Homo sapiens: one gene and its partner. The protein of the gene in region 1 purifies or fractionates together with the protein of each later gene. This does not show direct contact. Each region holds a gene or a part of one and is shown in the gene's direction. Other genes may lie near its edges.

The links.
Region 2: the proteins of NSMCE1 (region 1) and SLF2 purify together in Homo sapiens (affinity purification with mass spectrometry; 3 studies listed by BioGRID and IntAct, with this or other methods). This does not show direct contact.

Annotation. Positions count from the first base shown.
Region 1 is NC_000016.10:27,224,417-27,231,115, reverse strand, and holds the end of NSMCE1 (non-structural maintenance of chromosomes element 1 homolog), read left to right. Parts: intron 1-4,279; coding exon 4,280-4,396; intron 4,397-5,269; coding exon 5,270-5,390; intron 5,391-5,879; coding exon 5,880-5,959; 3' UTR 5,960-6,122; downstream 6,123-6,699. UniProt on the Homo sapiens protein: RING-type zinc finger-containing E3 ubiquitin ligase that assembles with melanoma antigen protein (MAGE) to catalyze the direct transfer of ubiquitin from E2 ubiquitin-conjugating enzyme to a specific substrate.
Region 2 is NC_000010.11:100,957,861-100,965,280, forward strand, and holds the end of SLF2 (SMC5-SMC6 complex localization factor protein 2), read left to right. Parts: intron 1-1,567; coding exon 1,568-1,636; coding exon of another isoform or gene 1,637-1,711; exon of another isoform or gene 1,712-1,728; intron 1,729-4,016; coding exon 4,017-4,052; 3' UTR 4,053-7,274; downstream 7,275-7,420. UniProt on the Homo sapiens protein: Plays a role in the DNA damage response (DDR) pathway by regulating postreplication repair of UV-damaged DNA and genomic stability maintenance.

The DNA of each region.
Region 1 (6,699 bases):
CTGTTATCCCAGACCCTAGAGCCGAGTGCCCCAACATCCCAGTACACAACACTTTGCACCCTGCTTTGCACCCAAGAGCACCATGCCTAGCACATGCTGCCACCATTGTGCATGGCTTGCAGGGCGTGCCCCCAGCTTTATGGTTTGACTTGCCCTTTGTCTGCCCTTGGTGTCTGGAGAGGGCGGTGGTGGATAGGAGAGGCCCCGCCCTGGAGTCTGTGGCGGTGAGCTGTGGCTGCAGGCGCTTGTACTCTGTGCCTTTCTCAGTTCGGTGGCAGTGCTGGCACCACCTTCTGCAGGGCGCCTCTGAGCTCGAGGGAGGGTGGACAGAGGATCCGGGAGCTGCCACCTGCAGGAGCGCTGCAGAAGTAGCAGGGGGCCCTCAGCACTGGCGCTGGGCAGTAGCCCTAGAGAGGCTTCTTGTTGACTGCCTGGCCTGCTGGGGCCCTCAGGAGGACGAAGGAACGAAGCTAATGTGGCAGGGGCTGTGTGGTGAGACTCCTCCAGGTTCCTCCGCTGCCTGTGGTGAGCAGCTTCTCGTTGCGGAGACTGTTTCCTCATCTGCAGGATGGGGACATTGCCAGCTCCAGGTGTTTTCTGTGAGGGTCCAGTGCTCTCTGACCTACATGGCCTGGTAAGGGTTGCCTTGAGGTCTGCGGCACTCTGGAGGAATCACTGAGAACCGGGGCGGGTGCTCACTTACCCAGGACAGGTCTTCCTAGGGCAGCACCTCGATCAGAGAGACCACATGTCAGTGTCTGATCCTTGGCCTCTCAGACACAGGGCTTCCCACAGAAATAGCCAGGGGCCCACTGACAAGGCCCTTCCAGGTGGGTATATCACCCCAAGGACACGTCACTCCTGGACAGCCAGTCCTGTGTGAGACTGGCCCGGCATGGAGGTGCTGAGGCAGCTGTCCGTCCAGGAGAAGGCCCAGGGGTGGTAGGTGGTTGGGGTCAGCGGGGAGGCCTCTGAGAGCAAGCGCGGCTCATGGGAGCTGGGCGTCTGCTGATCGGCGCACCTCCATACACCCCAGGACTGCTCCCTACACGAGGTCCTGACTTCCAAGTGTTGTGGCGAGGCGCCTGGGAGATCACCTGGGCTGTCGTCGTCTTTGAGGGCTAGGGCATCCCTCCTGCCCCTCCCCTGATGGGCCCTCAGAGGACTGAGTGGGTCATGAATGGTGAGCCTTGGGTGCAGTTTCAGGCACATAGCAGGTGTTCAGTAAATGCAGCTTGGCTGGGTGCAGTGGCTCAAACCTGTAATTCCAGCATTTTGGGAGGCCAAGGCGGGTAGATCACTTGAAGTCAGGAGTTTGAGACCAGCCTGGCCGATATGGTGAAACCCTGTCTCTACTAAAAATATAAAAAAGTTAGCTGGGTGTGGTGGCGGGCATCTGTAATCCCAGGTACTCGGGAAGCTGAGGCAGAAGAATCGCTTGAACCCTGGAAGCAGAGGTTGCAGTGAGCTGAGATCGTGCCATTGCATGATCTAGCCTGGGCAACAAGAGCGAAACTCTGTCTCAAATAAATAAATAAAAAATAAATGCAGCTCCTGCCTCAGTCTGAGCTTGAACTTGCTTAGTGTCAGGCATTCCTTTGGGATCAGTGCAAGGTCTACTTCATCTTCCCGTGGGTGTTTATCACAGGCCTGCCAAGTGCTGGGCCCCACAGCAGGTGCTGCGGACACAGGAGTGAGCACAGCCAGAGCTGGTGGCCGCTCCCATGGGGCCATGGTCTGGAGGGGGAGCCCGAGATCAGTGAGACGGTCATCTCACTGCAGTCCTGGTACAGATGGAAAGGAAACATGGCTTTATGACAGCTGTCCCAGAGGAACCGGCCCTCAGCTGCTGAGGAAGTGACACTTGAGCTGAAGGCTGTGTGGGAGTTGCCTGGAGCCTGGGGTGGGAGGATCATCAGCCCGGCAGTGGCCCTGTGGCCAGCAGGTGCACTCAAGAAGCTAAGGCCAGGGCCATCTGAGCACAAAGATTGCGAGGCGAGCAGACGGAGGGCAGCCCGGGAGATACGCGTATTAGGGGCTTGGCTCTTGGACCTAAGGGTGGTGGGAAGCCCTGGGGTGGGGGTGAGTTGGGAGTGACAGGGCCAGGCTTGTTCGGTAGCGAGTGCGTTGCTGGAGGAGAGTGGGCTCAGAGAGCAGCAGGAGCAGGGGAGGGTGGAAGAGGGTGGAGGCCGGGGAGGTGGGTTGCCATGATGGATCTGTAGGGGAGGGTGGAAGAGGGCGGTGGCCGGGGATGTGGGGTACCATGATGCATCTGGAGGGGAGGGCGGAAGAGGGCGGTGGTTGGGGGTGTGGGGTGCCATGATGGATCTGGAGGGGAGGGTGGAAGAGGGTGAGGGCTGGAGAGGTGGAGTACCATGATGGATCTGGAGGGGAGGGTGGAAGAGGGTGGTGGCTGGGGATGTGGGGTGCTGTGATGGATCTGGAGGGGAGGGTGGAAGAGGGTGGGGGCTGGAGAGGTGGGGTACCATGATGGATCTGGAGGGGAGGGTGGAAGAGGGTGGTGGCTGGGGATGTGGGGTGCTGTGATGGATCTGGAGGGGAGGGTGGAAGAGGGTGGGGGCCAAGGAGGTGGGGTGCCGTGATGGATCTGGAGGGGAGGCTGGAAGAGGGCGGTGGCCAGGGAGGTGGGGTGCCATGATGGATTTGGGAGCTTTGGGGGAAGGTAACAGCCATAGGACTGAGGACCGAGGACAGCCTGGGGGCTGGTCACATCCTCCCATTGCCCACAGCACTTGGATGACACAAAGCCCCTGTGCACCAGCAACAGCTGCGGTGCAGGGCACAAGCACCTGGTGCCCCGGCCTCCCTCCACTGTTCCCGCAGCGGCTGTCCATGCCCCAACCCCACGCTTCTGCCCTGCCTTCCTTCCTGTGCTCACCCAGCTCCTCTACTGGTGTTCCAGAGCGAACGCACTGTGAGCCCAGATTACGCAAGCACACCCCTCCACATTGCACTGTGGGGATGAAGGTGGGAATGGGGTGGGGGGCTCTACCTGTCAGAAACGGGAGTGGGCTGGGTGCGGTGACTCACGCCTGCAATCCCAGCACTTTGGAAGGCCGAGGTGGGCGGATCACCTGAGGTCGGGAGTTCAAGACCAGCCTGGCTAACATGGTGAAACCCTGTCTCTACTAAAAATACAAAATTAGCCAGGCGTGGTGGCGCATGCCTGTAATCCCAGCTACTCAGGAGGCTGAGGCAGGAGAATTGCTTGAACCCGGGATGCGGAAGTTGCATTGAGCCAAGATTGTGCCATTGCATTCCACCCTGGGCAACAAGAGCAAAACTCCATCTCAAAAAAAAAAAAAAAAAAAGAAAAGAAAAGAAACGGGAGTGACAGCTCTTGCTTGTAAAAATTAAAAATTAGAAAATAACAGAAAAGGCAGTTGAGCACTCGGGTGACTTGCAGGCGTCAGTGACGTCATCTCCTGGTGTGGTTCATATCCGATGCATGAGCTGACTGTGGAGAAACTGGAATCAGCCTGCATGGGTCCATGTCCTGGGTCCCGTGTCATTTGCCTGCCTTGGGTCTCCCTCAGTGCTGCCTTTCTCCTGTGACCTGGCAGTAGGGTCGGCCTGGGGAGCTGCATTGTTCTTGTGCTTCCGGGCTCTCCCAGGGATTTCAGGATGCATGATGGGTGGACCGCACCCTGGCATGGGAACCAGGAGGCCTGGCTTCCACTGGAGGCTCCACTGCCCACAGTGTGATGGGGCCTGTCTGCCCTCTCCAGACTCCTTCCAGCTCCATCTGTAAAGTGATGTGGCTGGAAGTGATCTCTGAGGGTCCCTACTGCAGTTGGAGGCAGAAGTGCTGGGAGGCAGAAGTGCTGGGAGGCACCAGGGATGCTGCTTTTTGGGAGTGGGATGGGTGGCGGATGGCAGCAGTGGGTGTTTGGGTTTGCACCCTGGGGAGACTGACCCCCTTGTGGGCCTCAGCGTCCTCATCTGCAGGAGGGCTGTGACTGCCTCCCTCGAGGCTGCCGTGCAGACAGAGAAGTCACGTCTGAAGGCACAGCAGATGCTGAGAAAAGGCGGGTGTCAGGGAGCCACGCCTCCATGTCTTTAGGGTCTTTGCCTCAGTTTCCCTTGCCGAGGCTCTGCCAGGGGGATGTGGCTGATGCCCGTTGGCTGGGGTTGGTGAAAAGCTGCGTAGACCCTTGTGTCTTCCTGAGCACTGGGCTGTGGGATCACAGAGGGAAGAGAGGTGGTGAATGGGGAGAGGGCCTGGCTGAGGGTGGCCACCTCCTGTGTGTCCCTGCAGAAGGAAGGGGAGTTCACCCTGCACGGCCGGGCCATCCTGGAGATGGAGCAATACATCCGGGAGACGTACCCCGACGCGGTGAAGATCTGCAATATCTGTCACAGCCTCCTCATCCAGGTACCCGCAGGGCAGGGCACGGGAGCTCATCACTGGGCCCTCGGCTCCCGGGGCTCTGTACAGGTACTTCCCGGAATCCTGGCTCTGGGCCCAGCCCTCCTGCACTGCTGGCGCATCCTCCCACAAGAGCTGGCGGAGGCCATCTCCCAGGACGTGTCAGGACGCCTCCCTGCTGTGCCCCGCAGGGACGCACTGCCGCCCTCCTCCCTGGTTCTGCTGTTGGGGTCCAAGGGCCCTCGCTTACTTTATTTTTCTCAGGAAGGCTGAGTGTTCTGTGCAACCTGCATCATCTTGGTAGTTTTGTAGTGAGTGTCTCTTGTCGATTGCTGCTTTCTGGAGTGGTCTTAACACTGGTTTGCAGGGCTTTGCAACCGCTGAACCAGCGTGGACATTGATGTGTCTTTCAGTTTCTATCGTTTTGCAGCTGTAGCTGTTTGTAATTGCAATTGCTCTTACGGGCCTCGTACACCTGTATCCTTGGGCACCTGGTGATTATTTCCTTGGGCGGAGTTTCTGGGACAAAGTGCACTTTTTTTTTGAAAGCTTTTGATTCACATTAGCAAATAAGCTTCTGAAAAGCTGTGGCTGTCCACACGCCACCTGCAGGATCTGAGTGCAGGAGTTTGGGAGCCCTCGGCTTCTGTCACTGCGTTCATGTGTTCAGAATTGTTTAGTAAAACCCACCGCAACAAGCAGCAAGCAAACAAAAGACTCCACTGCACTAAGGCGTTTGGGATTATTTTCAATATTAATCTGGGGCCCAGAAGATAACACGATGCCACCTGCTGCCCATTTCCCTTGTGGCTTCCCCGGAGGTTTGCAGAACATGGAGGTGTGCACCAGCTCCGCCGTCATTGGCCTTTCCTGTTTCAGGGTCAAAGCTGCGAAACCTGTGGGATCAGGATGCACTTACCCTGCGTGGCCAAGTACTTCCAGTCGAATGCTGAACCGCGCTGCCCCCACTGCAACGACTACTGGCCCCACGAGATCCCAAGTGCGTGGGCCCTGAGGAGCTCATGGGAGGGGCTGGGCCAGCAGGACGTGGGGCCTGGTGCCAGGGAAGCCCTTGGAGACAGGGCCCTGAAGGGCTCCAGGGTGTGTGGGGGTCCGTGTTAGCAGCTTGAATCCTAGAAGAAGCCACTGCAGGAAGTAAAGGCTGAGCTACGTGCACCGCTCCAGAGGACTTTCTAGAACCCAGCTGAAATTCCAACGTGTATGAGCATTTTGTCTAGACAAGGCTCTCTCTCTGGCAGCCCTCTCAGGAGGGGGACGTGAAAGCTATGTCCACAGCTCCCTCAGTTTGTTCCTCTCTGAACTGGGGCTAACTCTGCCTTCCTCACGGGCTGGGGAGGGTTAGCAGTGAAGGATGGTGTAGACCTAGGACAGTCCTTGGCACAGGAGACGTAGCTGCTGGCTCCAGCTGGTGCCCCTGTGCTGCCAGCCCCTCCATTCACTGTGTCTTTCCTGCCTTTTCTGTCTACAGAAGTCTTCGACCCTGAGAAGGAGAGGGAGTCTGGTGTCTTGAAATCGAACAAAAAGTCCCTGCGGTCCAGGCAGCATTAGCCATCGTGCCCTGCTGAGGGGCTGGCTGCCTTGAGTGGCCTGATCGCCACAGCCCTTCTTGGAAGAAAGGCGTCCGTGTTTCAGGTTCCACGCGAGTCACCTCTTTCGTCTTAATGTTCACCGTCCACAGCTTTGGAATAAACCATCCTGGGAAGTTGCTGCAGCCCGTCTGTGTTCTCGAGCCCGTGTGTGAGGCTCCGTGTTGGGGCCTTGCCTTTCCTGGAGTTCGGTCGTCACTCAGACCCCCTGGGTTTGGGCTCCAGCAGGTGAAGCCAGCAAGAGCCCCCAGCAATGACTCAGAACAGCTCACTGTCCTTGCCCAGGGCAGCCTTGCCTCCAGTCCCAGCGGTGGCCAGCTGTCCCAGCAGGACTGGGCTGGCCCGAACCTGGATGTGTGAGCCTTGGCCTCCCCAGCTCCCCAGTCTGGACTCTCCCCTGGCCCAAGGTGCCACTGGCCTGAATGGGCTGAGGCTGGGCGTTTGGGCGGGATGCGTGCTCTCCCTCCCTGGACGCTCTGCTCCCTGTGGGTGCCCGGCAGCCCTGCCATCCAGCTGTCCCAGCCGGGACTGGGAGTCAGCCTCAGTGCTTCCTCTCCCTGACCCTCCTGCATCCCATTGTCACCAGATCCTGTCCAGCCCAGCTGCCAATAGCCCTCTAGCCCTGCCACTGCTGCCTCAGGCTGAGCTCCAGCCCCGGCCCACACTCTGCCTCTGTGCTCCCTGCAGAAGACCCCTGGATGC
Region 2 (7,420 bases), on another chromosome or scaffold:
ATCAGACACTTTTAAAATACTTTTTTCTAAATACAAAAATGAGCCAGGTGTGGTGGTGCGTGCCTGTAGTCTCAGCTACTCAGGAGGCTGAGGAAGGAGAATCCCTTGAACCCAGGAGGCAGAGCTTGCAGTGAGCTGAGATCTCGACACTGCACTCCAGCCTGGGCGACAGAGCAAGACTCTGTCTCAAAAAATAATAATAATAAATAAAACAAAATAAAATAAACATACTTTTTTCTAAAGATTTTTTTATTCCAAGATTATCTTTTAGCTTTGATAATGTAATACAATGCTGATTCTTTTTGCCTCTTGTCTTTGGATAGTCATTGAATGTGAAGCCTCAGCTTTGTAACTTAATATCTTACATTAATTAGCTGCAAAGGTTAGTCATTTGAACAATGCCCATTCAGATTTAACATATGTATTTATTTTAGTAAATTTAAGTTAAATACAAAAATAAGCAACTAATGAAGTTATCAGATTTCTGATTTTCAAATACATGTAGGGGATAGCTCTTTCCCCAAGAGTAGAACTCTAGTTTCAGAAGCACATTCTTTTGAGCATTCATTGACCAGAATTGCTGGCCTGTAGAACTTGGTAGTGGCTACTACTGACAGCCATGCTAAAAGGGGACCACCCAAGTTTTATGTTTCTTAAAGACAAGGGCTTGGCACAGATTGTTGCCAGTGCTTCTCTTACTTAAAGTGGAAAGCGACACAGTGGTCTGTGGAAATTGCTTCAAGGGATGGTCCTGCTGAAATAGATGAGTTGCCTGCCTCTCCAAAAGCCTCTATTATAGAAAAGTTGGTGATTGTTTTGGAGAAATTTGAACTGTAGATGAAGAAAAAAGCATAGATTGTAGTTTACTTTATAAATTTAAAGCTGCTATAAAATTCCTGACTTGTTGAAAACATGTTTCTCAAGCAGTTATGTTCAATAGCTAATTGAGAATCTCTAGAGTGATAGAGTTTGGGTTTTGTGTTACAGTTTCAGTTGTGCACAGACACTTGCTAAACCTCCAAATGTAGGAAAATACGAGGTATTTAAAGGGGATTCGTAGTACTTGGGCACAAGCATGGAGAGGAGTAACAGTGAATTTTGGATCTTCTAATAATGTGGAGAGGGACAAATAAACGTTTTTTTTATGGCTTTGATCCTTTCAAAGGGAAGCTGGGAAGGGAAGGCACAGAACAGCCAAAGCCTTGGGCCCTGTTGACACAGACCACCCTTCAGCTTCTCTATCTGGTTGTTCAAAAGCCAGCGAGTTAAAGTTAAGTTCCTTTGAAGGCAGAGAATGTGTTTTTGGGGATGATCTTCAATAACAGGAAAATTAAATCATAAGCATTCAATAGTTTAGATTATGATGATAAAGGGAGTCTTATTAATTTCTATGATTTGAAATCTCCTTCAAAAGATGAGTAGTTTATTTTCTCTTTGTTGACAGAAATCAAATTGAGTTGTTGAGTGTGGGCCTGTTGCAGCTGTCAGATATTTTGTGTAGTGTTAAGCTGATTGTAGGTGAGAATGTTTTAATCTGATCCCTTTTCCTGTTTTTGATATTTTTAAGGTGAAAGACTTGGTCGCCAGGATACATGGAAAATGGCAGGAAATAATCCAGAACTGTCGGCCTACTCAGGTGTCATTTTGTTATACAATTTCATGTATTCTTAATAGTTTTGCTGAATGGCACTCTTCATACTGTTTGAAATAAAATAGGGTATAACAGTGCACTTGCTTCTAGTTATCTTAAGATAAACTGAAAACGCCAGTATAATACATGGTTTGTAATTTTTTTAGTTTTCGTTTGCTTTATATTCATTAATTTATTTCCAGAAGTGGTTGAGCCCATTTAAAAATATTGCATTGCATCAAATGGAGGTTATTCAATTAAGAGCATTTTTAAGACAGATCTATTGAGATAGAATTCACATACCATAGATTTTACCCACTTAACGTGTACAGTGGTTTTTATTACATTGACAGAGTGAATAACATCACCATAGTCTAATTTTAGAACATTTTCATCACCCCAAAAAGAAATCCCATACCCATTAGCAGTCATTCATTCCCCTTTCCTCTACTACCTTGGTTCCCCTCCTGACTCCTCCCAAATCCTAGGCAAACACTAATCTACTTTCTGTCCCTATACATTTCCCTATTCTGGACATCGGTAAATGAGATATACTATGTAATCTTTTGTAATTGGCTGTTTTCAGTTAATATAATAATAAGTGAATCCATGTTATAGCATGTACATCCCTTCTATTGCCAAATAATTTTCCACTGTATGGATATGTCACATTTATTTATCTACTTATCAGACATTTGTATTGTTTTCACATTCTGGCTATTACAAATAATATTTCCATGAACATTTGTATGCAAGTTTTTATGTGAATATGTGTTCTCAAATGAAACATTTGAAAAGGAAGTCAAATTGCTGGGCCATATGGTAATTCTATGTTAAGTGTTTTAAGAAACTACCAGACTGTTTTCCAAAGTGACTGCATCATTTTATATTCCCACCAGAATGTCTGAGGTTTCTAATTTCTCCATATTCTCACCAACACTTGTTTTTACTAAAGCCATAGTAGGGAGTAGGGAAGTAGAATCTCATTGTGGTTTTAGTTTGCATTTCCCTAATGATTAATGGTGTTAAACATCTTCTCATATGCCTATTGGTCATTTGTATAGCTTTTTTGCAGAAATGTCTATTCAGATCCTTTGCCCATTTTTTTCATCCCATACTTCATTTCAAAAAGCCTATTTTTGAATATAGTTATTTGTCTTTTTATTATTGAGTTGTATGTTCTGGATACAAATCCCTTATTAGAGATATAATTTGTAAATATTTTCTTCCATTCTGTGTGTTGCCTTTCCTTTATTTTTATTTATTATGTATATATTTTTGACACTTTTTTTTGATGTTATATCTAAGGAGTCTTTGCCTAAGAGGGACATTTTTTTTAACACCTGCTAGTAAGTGTGCCAGCCTGCTTGTTTACAGAGTAACTGGCATAGGATTGTCTAAAATGACGCTTCTCAAATTTTAATGTACATAGGAATCAACTAGGAACTTGGTGAAATATGGATTCTGACTCATAGGTCTGGAGTGAGAACTGAGATATTCTGTACTTCTTTTTTTTTTTTTTTTTTTTTTTTTTTTTGAGACGGAGTCTTGCTCTGTCACCCAGCCTGGAGTGCAGTGGTGCAATCTCGGCTCACTGCAAGCTCTGCCTCCTGGGTTCACGCCATTCTCCTGCCTCAGCCTCCTCAGTAGCTGGGATTACAGGCGCCTGCCACCACACCTGGCTAATTTTTTTGTATTTTTTAGTAGAGACAGGTTTCACCGTGTTAGCCAGGATGGTCTGGATCTCCTGACCTCGTGATCCGCCCGCCTCGGCCTGCCAGAGTGCTGGGATTACAGGCATGAGCCACCGCGCCTGGCTGATATTCTGTAGTTCTAGCAAGTTATCAGATTGATGCCAATGCTGCTGCTTCAGGGACTAAACTTTGAGTAGCCAGGGCCTAGAAGTTGCTTATATTTTATATCAAAATAATAGGAACACTGAATGTTAAGTAGATAAAGCAATCTCTCTATTTTAAGTCTTTGAGAAATCTTATATTTATGTTTTGTTGTTTTTGTATTTGTTTCTAACCTTAATAGATTTTCTTTTAATGCTGGTCATGTACTGATGTGGTATTAAAACAGAAAATAATTTAATAGCAAAACTATACTAATCAGCTTAACATTATTTAATCTGCTTAACTAAGCCCCTCCATGTGTGCAGTGGTGAGAAAAACATCCTGCACTTATTTTTTACTGTTTTTTGTTGTTTGACTACTGAATGTGAAATTTGAATCTGATTACCATAAATTTTCAGAGAAGTCAATATAAAGATTTTATTACTTGTCTTATCAAAGCCCATTGTCTGATGATTAGTAGTTTTATAAGGATTAATTCATAATATGATTAAATTTTGCTTTACCCTCTTTTTTCTCCTTCCCTTTTTTAGGGGCAGCTTCATGACTTCTGGGTACCAGATTCTTAATAGGAGTTGCAGCAGCAAAAATATGAACCAAGAGAAATTCAATAAGAGCCTTTCATAGAGGAGTAGAAAGGATTATTACAGAATCCAATGAATGCCAAGAAAATGTACAGCAAATGTGCCACTTGAATATCTAGTATGAAGCTGGTAATGAAGAAATTGCCATTTCTGAAGCAGATATGAAATATGATCTGCTTAATTGTTAAGGCAACTGACCTTTCAAAAGTGCAGAGTCTTATTAAAAGAGGGGAGGGGTAGAAGCAGAATAATAGTCATATGTCTAACCTGCCCCAGTTAACTCCTCTTGTTAAATTATAAGCCAGTTATCTTTTTTAGATAGTATTTTTGTCACTTGGATAATCACAGGAAATATATAAGAAAAGAGCTTGGACTAACTTGAGAAGTTGGACATGGAAAGCAAGACCAAGTTCCAGTTGGGTTTAATTTTCCCTCTTGGTTATTTTCGGACACAAAGGGAATGCTTAAAACTGAGTTTAGTAATAAAAAGCATAAATCTCTTCTGTAACTTTTATAAACCACAGGGAGGTTTCAATCCATGCATTTTCCTTCATTACTCAAGATTATAAATCTGTTTTTAAAATACATCTAAACAAACAGTTGAGAAACAAAAGTTTGGCATGTTGTCAGATCCCCTTAAGAGGAAGAGGTTAAGCTGTAAAGTAGTGGCCCTGTTTTGATGCCAGAACATTCATATGCTGTTTGTTCTGGATTTCTTTTAAATGCATGTATTTTAAATACTGGTTAAATCTTAGAATCTTGGCTATATCTTAGAATTCTGGCTCTTGGTAACCATATTACAGAAGTCTATATTGTAAAAGCCTAAAGATCTGGACAAGTTTCCAACAACCTTGTTTCCATGAGTATATAATTTTGGCAGACACCTGAATTCTTTGGGACACTGTGTCTGTGTATGTGTGTGTGTGTGTGTGTGTGTGTGTGCGCTTGTATCTTGAAGTTGTTGCACTTCAAAACCACAGCTGCTGTAAATTCTTAAACACTGGAGAGCCATCCTTTGGTTTAAATGGTAGAGGGTTAGTGGAAGTGCACACGTTGTTTTTAGCCCAGGGGTAGTAACAAACTCTTACTAGCCAACTAGAAAATTATTTTGTTGACGAGATGTCCCTTTTAGGAGGGTTTGTTTCCTGAAAGAATGCCAACTTTTTTTGTTGTTCTTTCAGTATTGGCTTGAGTGACCTGTTCTCCTGAGTGCTCTAGTGTCTCCAGTTGTGGGGGGGAAAGATGATGGAGGGGAACAGAAACTGGACTTGATGTTTGCGGTTTGAGAGGCAAGAAAATAAAATAACTTTCTACCTCTAAATTGAGGCTTAGGAGTAAAAAGCATTTTGTCCTAAATTTATCATTTAAAATAGCATCAGTAACTTTTGAGCTCATGTCAATCAAGCATTGGCAGTCAGAGATTTTATAGGGAAGACTAAGTAAATCCAGTTTCCAAGAACCTAAACTGATTGAGGCTCCAAGAGTCAGACCAACAAAAGTTTTATTCTGTGTTGTTTACTGGTAAGAATATTATTATCTTGATACTACCTCTCAAGGGTATTGTTACAAAATGCCACTTATGGTTAAAGAGATAGATACAAAGAGTTCTATTTGACAGAAGCTTGAAACTCTGGCATCTATCTGCCCAACGATGGGGGCTTTCGTTCTGTAATTTAATCCTTTGTAGATACATTATTTGTGTGTAATTTTATACGTGTTCATATTTTTCTCATTTTGCATTGTGTAAAGTGTACAAAATCTCAAAGTATAAAATACTGCTTATATTGCTTGTAATTTACAGTGTGTAAATATTTTCTAATTGTGTACATTGATGGGGGGGACAAGTGGGTTATTCAGGTTTTTTTTTAATGACCCTTTTGTATTGCAGTTTCAACAGATAACTGTCCATCAAATTTAAAACCACTTTGATACATTTTTATTTAACAGTTCCAATAAGAAAAAAATCTCTATTTTTAATTATATTTCTCCTTTAGAAAAAAAATACTTCATGGTCCCTCTAAAATAAATGGCCAGACCTCAGTTTAGGCCCTTGTATTTATGACTCTGGTAGAGGTCTTCAGACTCCAGGTCATAGTCCAGTCAGTATTTGCATTTGGGTTCTCATGAAAACTTTGTGACTCTCTTTTAGCACAAGTAGCCCATGGTTTTTCTTCCAAATCAAGTATTTTACTTCTCCCTTGAGTCCCCATGCTTTGTCTCCCTCCTGCTGCTATTGCCCGGTGAATGGGATGGTAGAGAGGGAGAAATGTTCATTGCACAGAGAATGTCAGGCCACTTTGGGGACTTGGCAAACGAAGCTTGCACTGAGTGGTGGTGTGTTTGGCAATATTACTGTGCCAAAAATCACCTTGTCTAATTTTATGGATATGTATGGCAAACTTATTACCCTTCTTGCAAGCTGCACATTAAGGTACTTGTAAGTGTTTATGCTTTTGTGTGTAACTGTTTGCCTTTTCTAACTGCTTTTCTTGTTACTGAAAATATAATTCTACTAGTTTTATCACATTAAGAGGCTCTCCATGCACAAAATGCATTGATGTAGCCGTAAAGTAACAGCATTTGTACATTTTCTATCTCCTGATGGCAGTGGTGCCTTTGTCACCTTTTGGAAGGTTTGCATTTTGTTTCTGCTTTCAAGCGCAAATAGTAGCTTGCTTTCAGCTTCACAAAAATCTCCTCAAATGTAAAAGATACAAAATGGCGTGTTATCATCCAGGCTTAGTTGGAGTATTTGCATTTTTATTTTTATCAAAACAAATATAATTGGTGGGGACTGGCCAGTAATAATGTGTGGCGTCTTTAAGCCAAGAGTAATTTTTAAATTAAAAATGAAAATTTTAAGAGGTAGCCCATTAAACAAGCTACTGAGTTGGAGAATTAGGGGATGACTGTGGTGGTTTGTCGCTAAGGAGGCAACAGTAGGGTCCAGGCGGCGGGGCACGTAGAGCAGTTAGCATGATCCATGGTTATTCCTTACTCATGAACAGTGTCGGCGCACCTCATTATCTGTGCATTTGTTTTTCCTGGGCAGTCCTGTCAGCCAGTTAATCCACCAGCTCTTAGGAAGTAAATACAGATTTTTTTCTTTCCTTTTTTTTTTTTTTAAAGATTTTATACTACATCTTGTTAAAGTCCTATGAATGTGTGTGTGTGTGTGCTATTAAAACTGCTTTTTCTCAGTTTGAACATGTGTTTGGTAATATTTGTTTGGGAGTTGGGGAGGCTAAGTTATCTGGAATGCCCTGTTCCCTCAGCCCACCCCAGTCCCCTGGCTTTTAAACATTTCTTCTTGCTTTGGATTGTCCAGTTTTTTAGCTTGATGTCTCCTGTTT